Regions from separate parts of the Homo sapiens genome. Here region 2 is linked to region 1. The links come from fine-mapping of genetic effects on gene expression. Tissue or cell type: whole blood. Region 1 holds a variant in brackets; the other region holds the start of a gene. All regions are shown on one strand. Distances are between the middles of the regions.

The links. PIP is the estimated chance that this variant, and not a neighbour inherited with it, causes the effect.
Region 2: TRABD2A starts here. The variant in region 1 is fine-mapped to the expression of TRABD2A in whole blood (TOPMed, PIP 0.98).

The regions. Positions count from the first base shown.
Region 1 is chr2:84,832,828-84,843,566 of GRCh38, forward strand. TRABD2A (TraB domain containing 2A) reads right to left here. Exons shown (of 7, transcript NM_001277053.2): 3 at 9,034-9,180; 4 at 6,322-6,496. Among named protein-coding and RNA genes, the nearest start is that of TRABD2A, 43 kb to the right of the region's middle. The variant T/C (reference allele first, on the strand shown) is at 5,682.
Region 2 is chr2:84,876,003-84,886,741 of GRCh38, forward strand. TRABD2A (TraB domain containing 2A) reads right to left here and starts at 5,082. Exons shown (of 7, transcript NM_001277053.2): 1 at 4,930-5,082. The coding sequence starts at 5,037. RefSeq lists enhancers at 4,324-4,826, 4,827-5,327 and a silencer at 5,057-5,186.

The sequences.
Region 1 (10,739 bases):
TCCCAACTACAGGATGGAATGCAATTGTGCTCTCTGAAAAAACAGGGAGGCTGGTGGGACGGAAGGAATGGCTACTTCCCAATCACCACTTTCTAGAAAAAGTAAAGGCAACCTAATCTAAGATCTGTCATTCTTGGAGGTTTCTGCATAGGACAAACCCACTGTAGTCTCAGGAGTCACAACCAGGGAACCCTGGGAGCCTGCGGCAGTACAGCAAATAGGCCCCGAGAAGGAAGCAGAAGGCCCATGGTTCCTGCTTTCATTTTCACCCTCATGCATCAAAGGGGGTGTTCATGGGTCAGCAGGGGCTCAGAAAGGGAAGTTTGGCAAAACCATTCCCTCCCATCCTCCCCTCTCCTCCCCACAGCCTAGACCAGCCTAGACAGCTGCCAGTGCAGGGGCGATAGCTGTAACCTAGAAATGTGGGGTAGGAGAGGAGGCCACTGGAGAAGTAACCCTGGCAAACAGGAGCCAAAAATCAGCATGAGCTGATTTAAGATCGACACCTAAATAAGAAAAAAAGTCATGTCTTTCACCACTGATCCTAGGTTATTCATTTGCAAATAAGGAACTGGCAATTTAGAACAAGTGATTATAGTTTCCACTTAGCACTTCTGACTTCAATTTTTCTTCTACTGCAAAGGTGATTTCCATTTCTAATCTTCGCATTTTATATCCAGATCCCCATGACAAAAGTCGCTGCTTGATTTTAAAACTCCAGTACTTTCCATTTTCAGTTATCCTCATTTTGCAATTAAAAGTTTGCTAACCACACAGCTTTTAAGTTTTAAAAGCACACGGTAATGTGTTTCGGAGCAATTTCTGTAGTTTCCTCTGTTCAACTTAGCCTTCAGAAGGCACAGAGAGAAAGCAGCTACAGGAATATAACTTTGCCTTAGAAGGAGCCAGTGCTAGATGGGGGCTCACAGCCCCTGGGCACTTCGGGCATCAGGAGTGCCCAGGGGCTGTCAGCCCCAATCTAGCCCTGCATCAGTATGACAAATCAAGCCCTGAGTACTGGGCAAGCTCAGGTGTTGGTGTTGCCTGTTCCACCTGCCTGGCAGAACCCCCACCACGAGGGCCCACCCACCGAACTGCTCAGACCAAGCTGTGCCCCAGCCTCCCACCAGCCCAGAACCCAGTCGACCTTTCCCCTCTCCCCAGCGCCCCATTACCCCTGCCACGGGACATACGGGAAGTTTTTGGGAGCTCACCTAAGTCTGGCAGGGGTGGAAAGCAGAAGCCCACACTCCAGCACCTGGGCACCTTCCATCCACACAGACCCGGGGTGGTGCATTGGGACACCACCACTGGCTCTGTTTCCTAACTTTCTCATCTGGGGTCTGCACCACTGTTACGGTGCCTCAAGAGTGAGGCCCAGGCTAACAGCTTTGTTCCAAGAAGCCATTTGTTGAGACAGTACAAATGTGCACACGGTGCCCAATCCAGACATGAAACACAGGACTTACAGAAGAAGAAAACTACCACATACTCACGGGCATTGCTGAGGGCACAAACTGCAGTTTGTTTGTGGCAGAACTTTTCAATGAGCATAATGTGGGAGCCAAACCCCTTATATTTCTATAACAGTTTTATTAATATTTGAATATAATTCACATAACATAAAATTCATCCTTTTAACGTATGCCAGTCGGTGATTTTTTCTGTATATTCAGAAAATCATGCAATCATGACCACTATCTAATTTTAAAACATTTTCATCGTTTTGACCCCAGCCCCTGGCAACCACTAATCTATGAATACTTTCTGTCTCTATAGATTTGCCTGTTCTGGACATTTCATATAAATATAATCATATGATTTTGTGACTGGCTGTTTTCACTTAGCATAATGTTTTCAAAGTTCATCCATGTAGTACCATATATCAGTACCTCTTTCCTTTTTATGGCCAAATAGTATTCCATTTGTGTGTATATATCACCTTTTATTTATCCATGTCAGTTGATGGATAGTTGGATTGGTTCCACTTTTTGGCTATTATAAATAATGCTGCCATGAACATCTGTGTACAAATTTTCGTGTGGACATATGTTTTCAATTCTCCTAGGCATATATCTGGAAGTTGAAATGCTGAATCAAATGGTAGCCCCATGTTTAATTTTTAAAAACTGCTAAACAGTTTTCCAAAATGGCTACACCATTTTAAATTCCCAGTAGCAATGTATGAGGGTGCCAATTTCTCCATGTCTTCACCAAAACTTTTTACTCTCCATCTTTTTTATTATAGCCTAGTGAGTATGAAATGGTATCTTCACTTTAGCACCACAACAATAGGACTCCAGTAAAATAACAGTGGATTATATGTGAAAGTGCAGCAAGACTCAGACTCTATTTAAGAAGGTTCTTAAGAAAGCACAAGACAAAAAATACTAGAGGAAAAACTAGAGGTCACTAGAGGAAACTGAAGCCTCTGGGACCTAGAGTTACAGCAAACATGCCTTAGTCTGTGTTGCTGTTACAAAATACCACAGACTGGGTCATTTATAAGCAATAGAAATTTATTTCTCACAGTTCTAGAGGCTGGGAAGTCCAAAATCTAGGCATAGGCATTCAGTGCCCAGTGAGAGCCTTTTTTTTTTTTAATACAGAGAGTCTTACTCTGTCACACAGGCTGGAGTGCAGTGGCATGTTCACAGCTCACTTCAGCCTCGACCTCCAGGGCTCAAGTGATCCTCCCACCTCAGCTTCCCAAGTAGCTGGGACTACAGGCACACATCACTATGCCTAGCTAAATTTTTATTTAATTTTTGTAGAGATGAGGTCTCACTGTGTTGACCAGGCTGGTCTCAAACTCCTGAGCTCAAGTGATCCTCCTGCCATGGCCTCCCAAGGTGCTGGGATTACAGGCATGCACCACCATGTCCAGCTGAGGGCCTTCTTCCTGAGTCTTTACATGGCAGGAGGGGCTAATGCTATATCTTCACATGGTGGAAGGCACAAGGGCAAAAAAATAGCCTACACTACTTTCCTCCAGTCCTTTTAAAAAGCATGAATCCACTCATGAATGTGGAGCCTTCATGTCTTAATCACTTCCCAAAGGCCCCACCTCTTAATACCATGACAATAATAATTAAGTTTCAACACACAAGTTTTAAGGAACATTCAGACCACAGCAAAACATTAAACAGCCCAACTCTGAGAAAGATTAACATAAACCCTCACACTAAAAACATATTTCCCTCACTTCCCATTGCCAAATACATCATATCCAGCTTTCAATTAAAAATTACAAGTCACACTGGGAGGCAAGAAAAATCACAATCTGAAGAAACAATGAAAGCATCAGACCCAGACTCAGACATGATAGAGATTCTGGAATTATCAGATAGGGAATATAGTTGAACTGAAGAGCATCATCAATCAAATTGATCTAATTGACATTTAAAGAATACTTCATCCAACAACAGCAGAATACAAATTCTATTCAGCTCACATGCAACAGATTTCTCCTTCGTTTTTGATTTTTGCTGGATGTGGAAATGTTTGTTGACAGTCTTTTATTTCAGCATTTTGAGTATGTCTCCCATAGCCTTCTGGCTTGCATGGCTTCTGATGAGAAATCTGCTGTTAATCCTATTGGGGATCCCTTGTCTGCTTTGCTCTCACTGCTTTCAAGATTCTGTGTCTTTGGCTTTTGACAGTTTGGCTATGACACGCCTTGGTGTGAAACTTTTTGATTTTATACAACTTATAGTTCATGGGTTGAATGTGCAGAGTAATATTTTTCATCAAATTTGAGACATTTTCAAGCAATTTTAAATTCAAATATTCTTTTTATTTCTTTCTTTTTTTCTCTCCTGTCTTCTGGGACTCCCGTTAGGTATACATTGGCACACTTGAGGGTGTCTCACAGGTATCTGAAGATCTATTCATTTTTCTTCATTCCTTTTCCTTTCTCTTTCTCATACTGAATCATCTCAATCAACCTATCTTCATGTATGTTGATTCTTCTTCTGCCAGTTCAAATCTACTGTTCAGCCCCCGTAGTGAATTTTTCATTTCAGTTCCTACACTTTAAATTCCAGAATTCCTATTTGGTTCTTTTAAAATAATTTTTATATTTTTATTGATATTCTGTATTGGTGAGATATTGTTCTCAAACTTTCCTTTAATTCTTTAGATATGGTTAATTTTAGGGTTTTTTTTTTTTTTTTTTTTTTTGGAGATGGAGTTTCACTCTTGTGGCCCAGGCTGGAGTACAGTGGTGTGATCTCAGCTTACTGCAACCTCTTCCTCCCAGTTTCAAGCAGTTCTCCTGCTTCAGCCTCCCAAGTAGCTGGGATTACAGGTGTGCGCCACAACGCCTGGCTAATTTTTGTATTATTAGTAGAGATAGGGTTTTGCCATATTGGTCAGGCTGGTCTCAAACTCCTGACCTCAGGTGACCCACCTGCTTCAGCCTCCCAAAGTGCTGGGATTATAGGCGTGAGCCTCCGCACCTGGCCTCTTTTAGTTTTTTGAACATATTTATAATAACTAGTGTTAAAGTCATTTTCTAGTAAGTCCAAGATATTAACTTCCTCAAGGACAGCTTCTATTGGTTGCTTGTTTTTCCCTGGGTATGGGCCATACTTTCTAGTTTTGCTCTGTGTCTTATAATTGTTTTTATTGAAAACTAGACATTTAAATAATATACCAACTCTGGAACTCATCTCCTCTCCCTTAGTCCCAGGTGCATTGTTGTTGCTGTTTGTGTAGTGATTTTCTAGGACTAAGTCTGTAAAGTCTGTATTCTTTGTTGTGTGTGATCACTGAAGGATCTGCTCAGTTAGTTTAGTGGCTGGCTAATGACTGAACAGAGATTTCCTTAAATTCCTTGCAAGTTTCCCAACCTTTGCAGAGGGGCTGTGTGAGTTTGGGGGCATGTATTTGATGCTTCAACAGGCAATTTATGACTTTGCCTTAGCTTTCACACTCTGCTTACACAGAGCCTCAAGATCAGCCAGAGGTGAGAGATTAGGACCTTCTCAGGTCTTTCCTGGGCATGTGCACAGCTCTTCTCATGCATGTGACTCTCTAGGAATATTTTAGAGCTTTTCTATACCCCCTATGGGATTTTGCTTTTAAGTTTTTTGGGCAGCCCCTTGTAAGCTTCAATTAATATTGCTATTTCCAGCAACTATGATGTTAAACAGCTGCTACTGATTGTTTTCAACACACACCCTAAGAATAGGGCTATTCACACAGAGCAAGCTCTGAGTCAGGTCAAATGAAGACAAGCTTGGGAATGGAAATTTCAGGGAACTATTGGACATGTCAAATAGTGATGATTCTTTAAGGATGGAGCTTTGGAGGAACTTTGAACCCATTCTGTCCCCTCCAGTAACCATTAGGCAAACAGTTTTCACAGCTACTGTAGTTCAAGGCTCCTGATTTTCAAGGCTACTGTGAAGCTGGGAAAAGGGAGATAAAAACAGAACAAGTTAAAATGCCACAAAGCCCACTGCTTCTATCAAAATTCATCCAGTTTTCTTAAATAAACACTTCTAGGATTGTTGCAAGCCTTTAATTAATTTCCAGAGCTGTGGAAAAGTTGATTTTGACCATTTTTTCCAGTGTTCTTATTGCTGCTATGGAAGAACAGGTTTTTGGAGGCCCTCACTCCACCATTTCAGAATTGCTTCTCTCCAACCCCCTATCTTACTGGTAAAGAAACTGAG[T/C]GACATGACTTGTTTAAGTTTATGAAGTTAGCAGAAAAATATGAAACAAAGCCCAGCCCAGCAAATGATCTTTCTGCATACTGTCCAGCCTCTGGCATTTCTATCCTCATTTCCTGAGGCTGCAAAGAATTCTGTGTCAGAGTCACTCCGGGGGAGAGAATTTATTTCAAGAAGCCCACAAAAGAAAATAATTGTCCTATTCTGTCTCCATGTGTGCTGCTAACAGTCAATAACAGCTGATGTATCAGCCCCAGGCCTTGGACTTGGGAGGCTCATTGTCAGGTAGAAGAGTAAAGACAAACATATTTGTAGTGAAAGTTTACAAAGTGAAAAGTACCAGAAAGAAGTTGGGATTAAGTATGAAATTCAGAGGACAAAAATGTTTTCCCAGCTGGCTTATGTGTGGAGAGAGCTATGGGTGATGTCACATGCACCAGCTCATCCAGCAACATTTCAACCATGCTGGATGCTCCATCCCCAGCTGGAGCCACTCTGCAACTGAAATAAGTCAAGGAAGGTGTCACTCCCTTCATCTCGCTTCATGACTAACACAGGCCCTAAGCAGGGGCTCACCTCAACATTCCCTTCTTGGGAGAAGCCTCAGATTTCAGAGGCTAATCAGAGGTGACCCACTACTCACCAGCTCCAAAGGCAAAGAAGAAGCCTTTGTCAGGGAACTCCTCCAAAAGGGCCTTCACCCGCTTCCCTATTCTCTCATTCCGCTTGTAGATCAGCTCCCGGCGTAAGTAGCTGTCAATCTCCTGAGCAGTGATGCGCTCCTGAGGTGGTAGCGTGGCATTAATAAAATTGGGAACCTCCACCAAAATAAAGAGAAAAAAAAATAAGGGGCAACAGAGTTATTAACAAAGTTACTTCATTGGAGCATCAAATCCCCCAACCTAGATGGTCAAGACGTTGTCAAGAGAAGAGTGACACCATTCTTGGAGTTTCCTGTCTGCTATGTTTCCCACTCTATCACATTCCCTGTAACCAAAGTGAAAAAAATATTAAGTGAAGTGCATTGAATGAACTCTTACACTATTTACAACTGCACTTCTGTTTTAGTTAAATGGCTCTGTCTGATGCCGTGTGTTTATAAAAAAAAAAAAAGGACACTGTCTTTGCACAGTACATCCATAGTTTTAACTTGTGTGATTCATACATGCTTTTCTTATAAAAATAGTCTTATATAGTTACATATTTTAGATTCTATTACCGAAAACATGAAATTTGTATAAACACTTAAATGTTTTATAAATCCTCTACTTTACATTTTCATTATTTCTCCACTTCCTATTTCTCTCTCTTGCTTTCCCCAATGTTCTTTGCCCTCCTGGCAAATATTTCACTGATTCTGGTATACATGTTAGCCAGTTTCAGTATTTTGGCTAATAACAGGATGAAAGTGCATCAAAATTGTGACAATCAGCGTGGTTCTTGCAGCCCAGGAGCTACAGGTAAGGCTGGCACTCTGTGTTTTCTCCCCACCCCCTCAGCTGTCTGGCTTCCCAAACCTCAGCCTCCCACTCCTCCCCCTGGGTGCATGCTCTCTCCTCCACCCAGGGACTTAACAATGTTACCCATTATCTTGGTCAGTATCTACCCTGCCTGCTGCTGCTGCTTCCAGTAGCCTCTCAAAAAGCTTTCCAAAGTCCTCAGACTCTGTGACAGCATTAACTTCCATCTTATGGATAACAGATCTCCTTTTGCGACGGCCTCGAAATGATATTCTTTCATTTTCAAATCGACAGCCTTCATCTTCTACTCTGTCATCTTTTTTTTTAATCATGTCATTTATGTAAGATCCCCTGCCCATTTCCCAAAATCTCTTCTCTTCAGCAGAGCCCCCCTCTCTACCAGCCTCTCTACAGAGGCAGCGTCAGATACACAGGGTGACCTCCCTCTGACATCCTGCTCCACCTTCTAAATTCCAAACATCACCCAAAGCCTGCACCACTCCCTGCTGGCCAGCCTGGCCCTCACTCACAGTGACAGCACATTCCCTGACCTCCTGTAGGGGCCCTGTGGGCAGAACAGATATGGGAAAGCCACAGGAGAAAAATGCATAAGACATCTGTATTATCTGCTCCATCAGCCTCACCATTTGCCCACGTAATGACCAAATCCTCCGCCCACATTAACTTTTTTCTGCTGCTTCAAATGTCAATTTCCCAATTGATCTTGACTTTTCTCCCCCCTTCCCTACCCTCAGCAAGAGTGCAGGTAAGATTTATCACCACCACCAACTCTATTTTTCCTTCTTTAATGTGTTTCTTGTTCTCCCTTTCCTCCTGCTTCACTTTGTCTCAATTTGACTTTTTTTTCCTCTAGATTTTTGGGGATGCTCCTTACATCTTTTGAGGCTTCTGTCATTAATGAAATGTCACCTTTCTGGGCTGATGCTGCACTCAGCCTGTACTGTCCTTCTCCCCATTGCTGCTATTCCTCCTTCAGCTCTCATGTTCACACATGTCTCCTTATGGTTGGGTCCCCAGATTTAACATAGACCTGTACAGCATCACCCACACCCACTAGCTCCTGTCTCCCCTCTCCAGTGTCTTCATGCATGTGGACACCAGTCCTGGGTGGGGGAAACAACACACTCCCCTACCTCAGAAGTTTAGCTGGTGTTTGCTATTTGCATGTAGTCCTAGAGAGGAGGCGAAGGCACCATGGCTTGTCCCATGGGAAGCCTGTTGATAAAAGCATAACAAAGATCCGTACCACTTCCCTCCTGGAAGGAGACCATGATCTTCTGAGGCTGAGCAGCTACTTCCTTCCACTCAATGGCCCACAGGTAAGGCCTGAGCTGGGCAAACACTCAATCCACCAGCTCAGCCACACTCATCCTGCAATACCACAGGATGCAATGATCCACGTCTGCAAATGCTAGCAGCCTTCCCAGCTCTGATGCCCTAAGCCTGTAAGCATTCTGTGAATACACAGCTATATCATGTTCACATGTTCCTAGAGGCCACTGAAGCTGCAGTCAAAGTTCTGCCCCATCATTTTGCAAAAGTATGACCTAAGTCAGCCAGGAGGCCATCAGACTCAGAACCCTTCCCTTCCTCAAGGCTGGTTCATGTGGCCTACTGTTAAATCCTTTGAAGCTTCATCCTTTGGCTGGAATACTGGAATTAACCCTCATCAATGCCCCTCTCTGTTCTTACAAGGTTTGTAAAGCTTTCATTCGCTGTAGTGCCTCATTCAATGACATCTAAATCTGCCCACTTTATTTCTAGAGCCCTCATGACCTCAATCCTTTGTACACAGGATGTACATGTTGCCAGGTAATGTTTTTATTCCTATAATTAAATGTGTGCTGAGCTTGGCAGGGGGAAAGGGTGCTCACCTGGGAGCTGTCATGGCTGAGGATGACGGAGCTGAGGTCCCCGCAGTTATAGTGTTTGATGAGATCCTCCGTCGTGTAGGGGATCTGAAGACTGCCTGCTCGCAGGCTTTCCTGCTGCAGGAGGGTCTGGTTCAAAGCAAAGATGACCTAAAAGAAAGGTCTCTTTTAAGTTCACTAACAAGGCAACTGTTTGCTGCCATCTTATTTCTTTTGTCCATGGCTGGAAATACCTTCACCTTTGTGCTCGTTATGTAAGGACGTGGATAGTGCTACTTAAAAAAGGGAACACAAATCCCTGGACAGCATCCAAAGAAAAGGAGAACAGTCCTTCCCAAATCAGCCCCAATCAGACACACCTAGGGAACTGCCTTATGGAGGACACAGACAACCTGGAACTCTTCCATGAGTGTGACCAAGAGGTGAGGGAACCCAAGAGCTGGCTTGTGAGGAATAGAAGCTAGGAGGTGGGGCAGCGAGAGGGCTGGGGACTCACAGACACACCTACCAGTGGGTCCCAATTATGTAAAGGACTGGGCAGAAACCAGTGCATTATCCACATCTTTTCTAACCATCAATGCAGCATTCCCAGCTAATGGCGTCATTAGATCCATGGGATATTAAGGGAAGTTAATGTGAAAAAATGGGAAATGAAGGCTAAAGAAAATTAAACACCAGCCTGGCCAACATGGTGAAACATGTCTCTACTAAAAATACAAAAATTAGCTGGGCATGGTGGCATGTGCCTCTAGTCCCAGCTACTTGGGAGGCTAAGGCTAGAGAATCGTTTGAACCCAGGAGACAGAGGTTGCAGTAAGCCAAGATTGTGCCATTGTACTCCAGGCTGGATGACAGTGAGACTCTGTCTCAAAAAAAAAAAAAAGAAAAGAAAAGAAAATTAAACAGGTTTTAATTTTACAGAACTTCTCAGAGTCTTTAATATACTAATGTGCGATGTGGGTCTCCTTGATGGGGAACAGAGTATGCCAGGTTTCCCAAACATATTTGAGGCATACATCACAAGAGAAAGCTTTGTTGAAACATATTTTGGGAAAATCCAGATTCAAGATCCTGATGCCAGGAACCCTATCTCTCCAGCTCTGACCCAGATCTCCAGTGTCCAGGAGAATTCATTTTACAAAGCAGGGAATTCTCCTGGGCACTGGAGAGCTGGGTCAGAGGTGGGGAGGTAGGGTTCCTGGTATCAGGTGGGTAGTGGGGCTGGCCACCCCCTACGAGGCTCCAGACAACACTTACAACCCGTGGAATTTTCTCTCTCACTTTCCCCAGGTACAGATGCAGCTCTATAGCCTCTGACAGCTCCCCTTTCTTGTGCTTCCCCAGTAATCAGCATACAGGATGCTGCCTTTGCTGGAATATCTCCTCACTCTTTGCTGCAATACAGACAGGCTTGGTCCATCTGTGTTGCAGCAAAGACTGACTATGAGGTCTTTAGCAAGATGTTTCAACTCTCCAGAGACAACGCATTAGAGGTCTTAAGTCAGCAAATGACCCTACCCAGCCCCAACCCCTTTCTCCTTTCACATGTTCTCCTCATTCTGAGTGGTGAGGAGACAAGGCTTCCTGGTTTGCCTCCCATGGGCCAAGGTGGCACAGGCCCACTGCGTACCCCTTGTCTCAGTCCATTTGTGCTGCTACAACAAAATGCCTGAGACTGGGTAATTTATGAGGAACAGAAATATATTTCT
Region 2 (10,739 bases), 43 kb after region 1:
AAAAAAAAAAAGGAAAGAAAACAGGACTTCCTGATGAAAGGATGAGGTTATCATTAACAGATATGGAGAAGGACGGGGGTGAAACAGGATTAGAGGGGAAGGTCAGAAATTTGGTTTTGGATCTGTCCAATTGACATGTCAAGCATACAACTTGTGCCAAGGTCCAGGTGGTAGGTGAATATGTAAGTCTGGAGCTTGGGAGAGGCCTGGGTCAGAGATGAAGATGAGGGCATCATCACCATGTAGATGTTCTTTAAAGCCATGGGACTAGACAAGGTCTCCAACAGGATGTCCACAGGAGAAAAGTTCTAGGAATAGACTCAGGGCCCTCTCACCCTAAGAAGTCTGGGGAAAGAAGAGCAGCTAGCAAGGGAGAATGAGAAGTGGCCAGCAAGGTTGCTGGGAAAATCAGAAGAGTAGGAGGCCGATTGAAGAAAGTACTTCAAGGAGCAGAAAGTAAGCAAGCGGGTTAAATGTGGATGGTAGGCCAAATAAATCAAGAATTTGAGAACTGACCTCTGGATTGAGCAACACTGAAGTCACTAGGGACTCAGACAAGAACAGTTTTAGTGGTGTGGTGGGAGCAAAAATATGCCCCATGCTAAGTGGTGGACAGGTAGGCTGACTCCTGAGTCCAAGCTTTTAAACGCCATATTTATGCAGCCTTAACATGCAATAGACTTTACCTCTGATTCAGAGTCATATCTTTTTTCAGTTAATACCCTGCTAGTTGTATTGTTGCTGAGGAGCACCACCTGATTCCAAATCTAGAAAGGCTCTGTCCAGCTCATCTTCCCGATCCCAGATGATTGCCCAGATAAACCACACTGACCTTGTTACATCCTCAGGTGCCACCTTTCCCATTTTCTCTTTTCAAGTTAACACAGCTCAGGGGCTTTTCTGCTTTTTTATGCCAAGGGCTGTATCTTATTCACCTTCATATCCCCAAATACTGAAATACTTGCCATATACTACTACATAGGAGCTCAAAAAGAGTTTTTTAAAGAAATGAATCTTATCTTGTACAATTTCTTCAATACCTACAGATCTGTTCTGACCAAAGGGCACCCGGATTCCCACTGTGTGCACCAATAACCATTCCTGTGGAACACTGATCCTGCCCTACCAGACATGTCTTCAGCAGGGCACAGGCTGAAAGAAGAGTCTTCAGGACTCTTCTTTACCTTACTTTGCCCACTGGCGAGCCCCCGGACCCTTGCACTTACTGTACTGGTGCAACTGCCTCTGCCTCTCTCATACTGATATCCTCAGGGTAGGGCTATTTATCTCTACAAAAAAAAAAAATCCTTCACTACCCCATTTCACTGTTAAAATATATGGCAATTAGAAGAAGCCATAGATTTTAACATTAGGGTGGTTTAAAAGAAAAAAAAACTGAACCACGATTAACATGTCCCTTCTAACTTGTTGCAACTGTTCCCAGAAGGAAAAGACAACCGGGCATGGTGGCTCATGCCTGTAATCCCAAGACTTTGGGAAGCTGAGGCAGGAGGACCATTTGAGGCCTGGAGTTGAAGGTTACAATGAGCTATGATCACGACACTGCCCTCCATCCTGGGTGACAGAGCAGGACTGTGTCTCAAAAAAGAAAAAAGAGAGAGAGAAAACATGGCCATGGGTGACTGAGACACAGAAGCTACAAGCTTCTGAATCAAACTGAGATTTTAACAGACACCTGTGTAGTCCATCCAGTGAAAAAGAACAAGGCACAATGACAACTGCATATTGCAAGCTAACTCCGTAACACCCAGCACACCCTCAGCTCCTCCCATCCTAGCATCCCTGGACCTGCAATAACTGCACTTTTCCAAGATTACTCTTCAGCAGACCAGCCACAATGAAGCTGGCTTTACATTATCCTTTTCATTCAACAAATATTTTTTGAGCATCTGCTATGGCAAGGCACTCTTCTGGATACTGGGGATGCAGAAGCAAACAAAACAGACAAAAATCCCTACCCTTATGAAGATGACATAGGGGAAGGGGCAGCAATAAACAAAAATTTTTATCAGATGGTGATTAAGTGCTATAAATAAAAATAAAGCAGGGAAGGCAGATGGTAGTGGTGGCAGCAGTTGATGTCACCTTTACGAGAGTAATCAGGAAGAAACTCATTGAGAGACGCTTGAGCCAAAGCCAGATGGAGGTAAGGGAGCAAGCCTGTGGATAAATGAGGGGAGAATTTCCCAGGGGGAAGAAAGAGCAAGTATAAAAGGCATCAGGCTGGACACGGTGGCTCACGCCTATAATCCCAGCACTTTGGGAGGCTGAGGCGGGTGGATCATGAGGTCAGGAGTTCGAGACCAGCCTGCTCAAGATAGTGGAACCCCATCTCTACTAAAAATACAAAAATTAGCCGGGCTTGGTGGTGGGCGCCTGTAATCCCAGCTGCTCAGGAGGCTGAGGCAGGAGAATCACTTGAACCCTGGAGGCAGAGGTTGCAGTGAGCCAATGTAGCATCACTGCACTCTAGCCTGGGTGACAGATAGAGCAAGACTCTGTCTCAAAAAAAAAAAAAAGGCAGCAGGCAGGAATAGGAAAGAACACTAAGAGTTCTGTTTGACAAGAAAGAGACTCAACCTGCGTGGTGCTCAGGGTAAACCCTGCAGTGTCTAGGGGCCAATTTGGGCTCAGAAGACCTCTCTAATGATTAACCAACCATGAAAACCAAACCAGCTCTCAAGGCTACAGTCCTGCAGAATCCTATAGGGGCTGCTGCACTGGATTGGAGGCTGGATCCCAGGACTTCCACTCTAGAATCTCAAGACCCCAACCCACTGAGGAACCCAACCACAATGCCCTTACAGCATGTGGGTCAGACATACAGCATGTGTGCCGCTGATTGGCCTTCCCAATTCCGCAGGGGGTAAGACAGAGTTTGCCCACAGAATAGAACAGCAATTCTCAAAGTATGGTCCAGGGACCTGTGGGTGTCCCCAAGAGCCTTTCAGGGAGTCTATAAGGTCAAAACTGTTTTTATAAAACTAAGATATTTTCCTTTCACCCTCATTTTCTCACAAGGTACTGTAGAATTTTCTGGAGGCTACATGTGTGTGATGAGGTCACTGCTCTGATGGCTAATGGAATGTGTGCTATGTTGTGTTTTACTACTATCTCCATTAATTCACATAAAGTAAAAGTCTTTGAGGTTTTCAATACTTTTTTTTTTTTTTTTTTGGATATAGGGTCTCGCTCTTTCACCCAAGCTGGAGTGCAGTGGCACAATCACACCTCACTGGCCTCCACTCCCAGGCTCAAGGTTTCCTTCCACCTCAGTCTCTGGAGTAGCTGGGACTGCAGGCACATGTCCCCACGCTGGTAATTTTTTTTATTTTTTTGTAGAGACAAGGGTCTCGCCATGTTGGCCAGGCTGGTCTGCAACTCCTGGGCTCAAGTGATCCACCGCCTTGGCCTCCCAAAGTGCTGGGATTACAGGAGTGAGCTACCATGCCGGGCTTCTTTGATAATTTTTTGTAACGTAAAGGAGTCCTGAGACCAAAAGGTAGGACGATGGAATAAAGGACTCATAAAGACAGATTCTAAAGGAGAGAGATCTTATCCAGACTCACTCGTCATAATTACCAGTCGGTAATAGGTTTTGCAGAAGTGAAAGGCAATGTGCTTTCTTGTGAGGAGATGGACTCCTGCCTTGTCTAACAAGCATGAAGCGGCCACACCGCAACAGAGTTTGAAACCATGCCTGGTGCAGACTCCCCTCTCCAGCTGCCGCGCCTCCTGCCTTGGTAGAGGGCCGTCCGCAGCCCCGCGACGCCTTACAGAGGCGAACACCGTGCGTCTTCCCAGCCCGGAGCTCCAGGATCGGCTCTATTTGGCCGTCCTCTGCTTTGCTGCAGTTGGGATGAGGAATAAAATTGCGAATGGCCAGGGGTGGAGGCAGACCGGGGAGCTGCGCAGGTGTCATCAAAGGTGGGCCTCTAAATTCCAGCCCCCACTCCCTCAACCCACCCCCAACCCCCCCCACCCCCGCGTCGCGGGCGCACCAGAAGGATAAGCCTGGCATGGCCCTCTCCAGAGCCAGGGACGCACAGATATCAAACCCACCGGAACAAATGCGCGAAATTCAACCTATGCCGCACTCAGAAGAGAGGGACTCGAGAACCACAGAAAATTCTGAGTGTAGGAAAACTGATCAGAGAAGGAAATATTCATCTCGAAAGAGGTCCAGCCTCGGAGACGCAAGACCTGTCCGCTATAGAGCTGTGTTGACTCGGGCAGGTCACTGAGCCTCCCTTGCCTGGGTTTCCCTCACCCACAAAACGTTGATGCGAACATCTAAAGCGCCCGGCTGGACACGCAAGGCTCGGACAGTGGTCACTCCGCGAACGCACTCTGTGACCTGGAGCACACAGGTCCCCCGCTGAGTGTCAGTTTCCCAGATCGGTAAAAACAAGGGAAATGGCTTCAACTCCCTAAAGTCCCTTCTAACTCAGGCACTGAACATATGAAGGTTAAGCCAAGCAGCTTCAGGGCGCTGTTAATATTTTGATAAGAGCAGGTGAAATTAAACTCTTAAGGAAGAGAGGGAAGAAGAAACTTCAAATAAATGTGCCCAAGTTCCTGGTCCGGTACTCCCTGGCGGATCCGTCCCCCGAAAGCTCGCGAAAATGGCTGGCGAGACCCCAGAGGCTCTCTCGGACGCCCTTGGGCTGGCGGAGGGCAAAGGCCAGGGCACTGAGTCGCTTGGAGCCTGCGGGCTGCGCCCCCGCGGGAAAGGGGAACCCGAGGGCACGGAGAGGAGAGCGAGCAAGGAGCGCCGCGGTGCTAGGTGAAAGCCCAGCCGCGGAAGTCGGCTCGGGGTCCGAAAGCGCTGCTTCGCGGGGTTCGGAGGGAAACCATCCCAAGGAGGTGCAGAGAGGCCGGCTCTCCAGCACCCGACGCGCGCCTTACTTGGGGCTTGAGCTCGCAGTTGGCGGTGCCGGGCGCCCCGCGCCGCGAAGCTGCGCCCGTGGGCAGGAGGCAGAGGGTCTGCAGCAGGAACCAGCTCCAGGGACTCATCCTCCTCAAGGCGGCTCCGAGGCCCGGAACGCGGAGGGAAGGAGTAGGGCAGAGGTGGCCGCCCGCCCTGGCTAGCCGGGGCCGCGGGGCGCCTCCGGGCGGGGCTGGGGTGAGCCCGGCAGCAGCGGCCACGTGGGGCCGGGCCTCGACCTCCCTCCCCCCACCCCACCCCCGCAGGTCAGCCCCGCGCCTAGGCGGCAGCGGAGTCCCGAACCGCGTTTCTCCCGCCCAAACCCTGCCGGGGCCGCCGCCCACCTCGTGTGACCGCAAGAGGGGTAAAGTGAAGTTCCAGCGCTGTCCTAAATTCAACCTAAAATCGCATTGGTTCCTGCGTTTACGTCTGTGCTTATGCTGCCGATTGTGAGGGGAGGGTGCCTCTTGATTGAAAGAGGCAGACAAAATAAACAAATGAAAGGCTATCTATAAAGGAAAGTTCATTTAAACAAAGGAAATCTCACGGAAGTTTTGAATGTAAAAGAGAGAGGGGAATGGTCAGTGTGTGCATCCACTGAAAATCCAGGACCACAAAAGCTGGCACTCCATTAAGAGCCCTCTTAATGGATTTTTAGGAATAATATTAAGGATGTTAACACCGAACTCAGAGGATTGCCGCAAGGATTAAAAGAGGAAATTTATGAGAAACACCTTGATTGGCACACATAGCAAGCCTGCAAACTGCAGTCGCTCCCTTTCGGCTCCAAAACCCCACTGAGGATTTTTCACAGCATTGGTCCATCAGGAAGAAAAAAAAATTATGAAAGCAAGTAGCTGTGCCCCGCCTGCCGCACCTCCTACCCATGCCTGAGCGCACTTTACCACCACCTTTTAAAGTCCAGACGTCTGCGCCATTAACTTCGGAGTGGTGTTCGCAGGAGCATTTGTCGCAGTGGTCTTTAATTGCTTTAAGTCGCTGTCCATTTTGAGAATCTGATAACTGGACGATCTCCCAGGGAAAAAGAAAAGGGGGGGGGCAGATTTGCATACAATGCGGGGAGAGGTTTTCTGAAGCCCATTTCCAACTTTCCCGTAAAGAACCCCTGGCTTTGAAGAGCCAAGTCTTTCGAGATTTAACTCCACCAACATTTAGAGTTCAGATGTTTTTGTAAAATCGCTTTTTTCTAAGTTTGAGTGGGGATTTGCTTTCTGGAATTGACTGTCTCCTGTCTTCAGATGACTGCCCCGTGTCAGCCCGGCGGCAATCGTTAGTCTCCGGGCCAACCCAGGACGATGCTTTTTGGCGTTTTCAGGCACCAGCGCTGCCACCTGCTGGCAAAAACTTTCTCTTTCGGTTGTGAGGGGGAAAAGCAAAAAGCATCAAGAACGTAAGTTGCCCTGAGCTAAGATCGAACCACTGCACTCCAGCCTGGGCCACAAAGTGAGACCCTGTCTCTTATTTAAAATAAAACAAAACAAAACAAAACAAAAAACTCAAAAGGATGTAATTACCTATTATTTCATGTTATCTCTCCCACTCCAAATGAATCAATCCGTGTGGCCACAGAGAAGCCCGCCCAGCTTCTCTCTGAGCTGGGCTTCTCTCTGGCCACACAAAACATGGCTGAATTTGTTTATTTTCTCCTGTTGTTTGTCTCTCTTTTATTTCGTTGGTTTCTGCTCTTATCTTTGTTATTTCCTTCTGTTTGTTTACTTTTGGGTTTACTTTGCTTTTTTTCTGGATTCTTAAGGTGGTACCTTAAGTCATTGACTTTAAGTCTTCTTGCTTTTGTAATATAAGCATTTAAAGTTATAAATTTCCCTATAAGCACTGCTTTAGCTACATCACCCAAATTTTGAAAAACTGTATTTCATTATCTTTCATTATCTACTTTCCCTGGTGATTTTCTTCTTTGCCCGTGGATTATTTAGAAGTAGGTTGATTGATTTCCAAACTATGGAATTGTCCTAAATATTAGGTTGGTGCAAAAGTAATTGTGGTTTTTGCAATATCAACAGATTTATAATCCAATTCTGTTGTAAACAGAAAACATACTCTGTATGATTTTGATTATTTTGAATTTATTGGGACTTGTTTTATGGCTCAGCATATGGTCAGATACTGAGTATGAAATATCATATCCATATCCAAAGTACCTAGATAATTTTGTTTGATTCTGACAGTTTTTAAATGAAGTGTTTTTTTTGTTGCTGTTGTTGCTTTGTTTCGTTTTGTTTTTTCTCTTAGCCAGACCCATCATCAAGTAGGATTTATTCTGTAAGACACTCAGTGTCCGAATATTCTATAGAATCACATCTACTCTACTTACATGTTTCCACAGACATTCCTAAGTTCACTATCATCCCACAGTGCTGACCCAGACCTGGTGACAGGCTGACATGGCCTGGTCCTCACTTGCCTTATACAGACATCTGGGTTGCAGGCCTTTCTGCCTTTCCCTTCCTGGTTAGGAAGGAGATGTTAAATGTACCCATGTCCTCCTCTCTGCTTATCTGCCGAGTTTCTGTATCAAGTTTAGCTCCTTAACTTCAGCTTTGTTACTGGATCATACCTCTGGCTGCCCATTGCCAGAGCCCTGAATTGCTTCTGAACCTTCCCTGGTCCTTTCTCTTTCCCCTTTCATGTATGGTTGATATCCTTGGCAACCCTCCCATATTAGTCCATTTTGTGCTGCTATAGAAGAATACCACAGACTGGGTCATTTATAAAGAACAGAAATGTATTTCCTTACAGTTCTGGAGGCTGGAAAATCTGAGATCAAGGTGCCTAGCATCTGGCAAGGGCCTCCTTACTGCATCATCCCACTGTGGAAGGTGAGAGCACAAGAGAGTGAGAAAGAGAGAAAAATCGAGATTGAGAGCTAAAGTCATCCTCAAGCCATTCATGAGGTCATGAGGGTAAAGCCCTCCCATGATGTCCCAGCTCCCAACACTGTTGCATTAGGGATTAAGTTTCCAACATATGCTTTTGGAGGACACCTTCAAAGTATAGCATCCGCTTAGGTCCATCTACTCTTAAGTGCTTCTTTTGTGCCCCTAGTAATGACTTTCTGAATTTACACAAACCTGTGAGGCTTGTCCCCTTCATAGCAGTACCTGAGAAAATTATACTGCTGATACCTTTTTGCTCTTTCCCCAAAATCAGATTTACCCTCAAAAATAAAGTTTTCAGAGTATGCAGAGGATTTGCTATGGCTTCAGCAACACTCTGTGCCTTCACCCTGCCTTTTTCTACCTGGCTTGGCTGACCTGCAGTCATCCACAGATTTCCAGAGGTGATCGGGACATCAGAGGTGTGGTGGCAGTTCCCCTTGATTCTGCCTCCTGATATTCACACTTATGTTTCATACCCTGTCCTTTATTGTAACCAGAACCTGAGACTTGCTTCTAACAATGAAATACGGCAAAGGTCATGGGCAGTGCTGTGATTACTTGTACATGACTACATAAACATGTACTGCTAGTCTTGCTAAAGTCTCTCTCTCCATTGCTATCTTTCCCAGCCTCCAGAACTGTAAGGAAATGCATTCTGTTACTTATAAATGACCCAGTCTGTGCTATTCTTCTATAGCAGCACAAAATGGACTAATATGGGAGAGTTGCCAAGAATATCAACCATACATGAAAGGGGAAAGAGAAAGGACTAGGGGAAGGTTCAGAAGCAGTGAAAATCTCTCTCTCCATTGCTAAGCAAGTTGCCATGAGACCTACAGAATTCATGAAGACATGAATTCTGCCAACAACCTAAGAGAGCTCAGGAGCAGATCCCTCTCCAGTTGAGCCTCCAATGAAAATCCAGTCCTAGCCAACAACACCCTGACTGTAGCCTTGTGAGACCCTAAGCAGAGGACTCAATTAAGCTCTGTCTACACTCCTGATCCAAAGCAACTGGGAAAATAAATGTGTGCTGTTTTAAGCCACCAGGTTTGTGGTAATTTGTTGCAGCAGCAATAGATAACTAATACACCAGGGGAAGTGGGATGCTAAGCACATTCCCAGGAGTTCCAGCATGGTGCTCGGCCAGCAGGCTGTGTCCGTCCTCAAGGTGAGCAGTTGAAGACCTAAGTTGATGGAGGTGTGGAAACACCTACTCCCTCCACTGCCAGGTGTGCAGGCTCCGTGCATTCTTGGAAAGGGGCTGAATGTTGCCACACTCCCTCGCCCACCCAGTGTTGGCACAAGAATTTCTAAGTAGGAAAGAGTGGCAAGTATGCCAAAGCTGCATTTGCTTTGCAGCACACTGCTTGTACCAGATTGTGAAAAAGAGAAAACATCCCTGGACAGCTGGGAACTGGTCTGGTTTTATCAGTCAGGCCTTGGTGTTGCTACAAGCTGGCCTGGCACTCACAGCTAAGCCATGGTGTTCTCCTGTTGAACATAAACAACTTCACAGAGCATCAACATCAGACAAGGCCACTCTGTGATGAATGAAGATGAAAGCAAAACCCCTCCATAATCACATCTCAACACAGACAAAACATGAACATTGGCCAAGTCACAAGAAAGGGTGTCCAGTCATCCGCCTCTTCTGACTAAGGAGTGATGGCTGCTCCTTTACCAAGGCCAGTTTTCACCTCCATTCATTTCTCCCACCTCATAGATGAGATACGTTAAGATTCTATTTGGGGATAAATTAAGATCCCCCAAAATTCATACATTAATCCCCTAACCCCTAGTGCTTCAGAATGTGACTGTATTTGAAGATAAAGTCTTTAAATCGATGATTAAGTTAAAATTAGGCTGTAAGGATGGGCCCTAATCCAATCTGACTGGTGTCCTTATAAAAAGAGGAAATTTGTGCCAAGTATGGTGGCTCATACCTGTAATCATAGCACTCTGGGAGGCCAAGGCAGAAAGATGGCTTGAGCCCAGGAGTTCGAGATCAGCTTGGGCAACAAAGGGAGACACTGTCTCTACAAAAAAAAAAAAAAAAAAAATTAGCCTGGCATGGTAGTGCATGAATGAGGTCCCAGCTACTCAGGAGGCTGAGGCTGGAGGATCCCTTGTGCCTGGGAGATCAAGACTGGAGTGAACCATGGTCTCCACTGTACTTCAGCCTGTGCAGCAGAGTGAGGCCCTGTCTCAAAAAAAAAAGAAGAGAACAGCACGGACTGCATACACAGAGGGGCAACCATGTGAGTAACACAGAAAGAAGGCAGTCATCTGCAAGCCAAGGAGCGAGGCCTCGGAGAAGAGACCTGCCAACACTTTGATCTCAGACTTGCAGCATCCAGAACTGTAAGAAAATAAACTTCTGGGCTGGGCACGGTGGCTCACACCTGTAATCCCAGCACTTTAGGAGCCCAAGGCAGGCAGATCACCTGAGGTCAGGAGTTGGAGACCAGCCTGGCCAAAATGGTGAAACCCCGTCTCTACTAAAAATACAAAAATTAGCCAGGTGTGGTGGCATGCACCTGTAATCTCAGCTACTCAGGAGGCTGAGGCAGGAGAATCACTTGAACCCAGCAGGCAGAGGTTATAGTGAGCCGAGATTGCACCACTGCACTCCAGCCTGGGCAACAGAGCAAGGCTCTGTCTCAAAAAAAGAAAAGAAATGTCTGTGTTTAAGCCACCCAGTCTGGGGTATTTTTTATGGCATCCCAAGCTGACTAATACTTGATAGCACCCAACCCAGAGCAAAGCCCCACTTCCTTGAACTCTCCCCCAAATCACCTGACAAGTCCAAATCCTATAACAAGCCCTCCTAACACCTTCTTCCTGATATGCCCTACAATTCCCCAAAATAT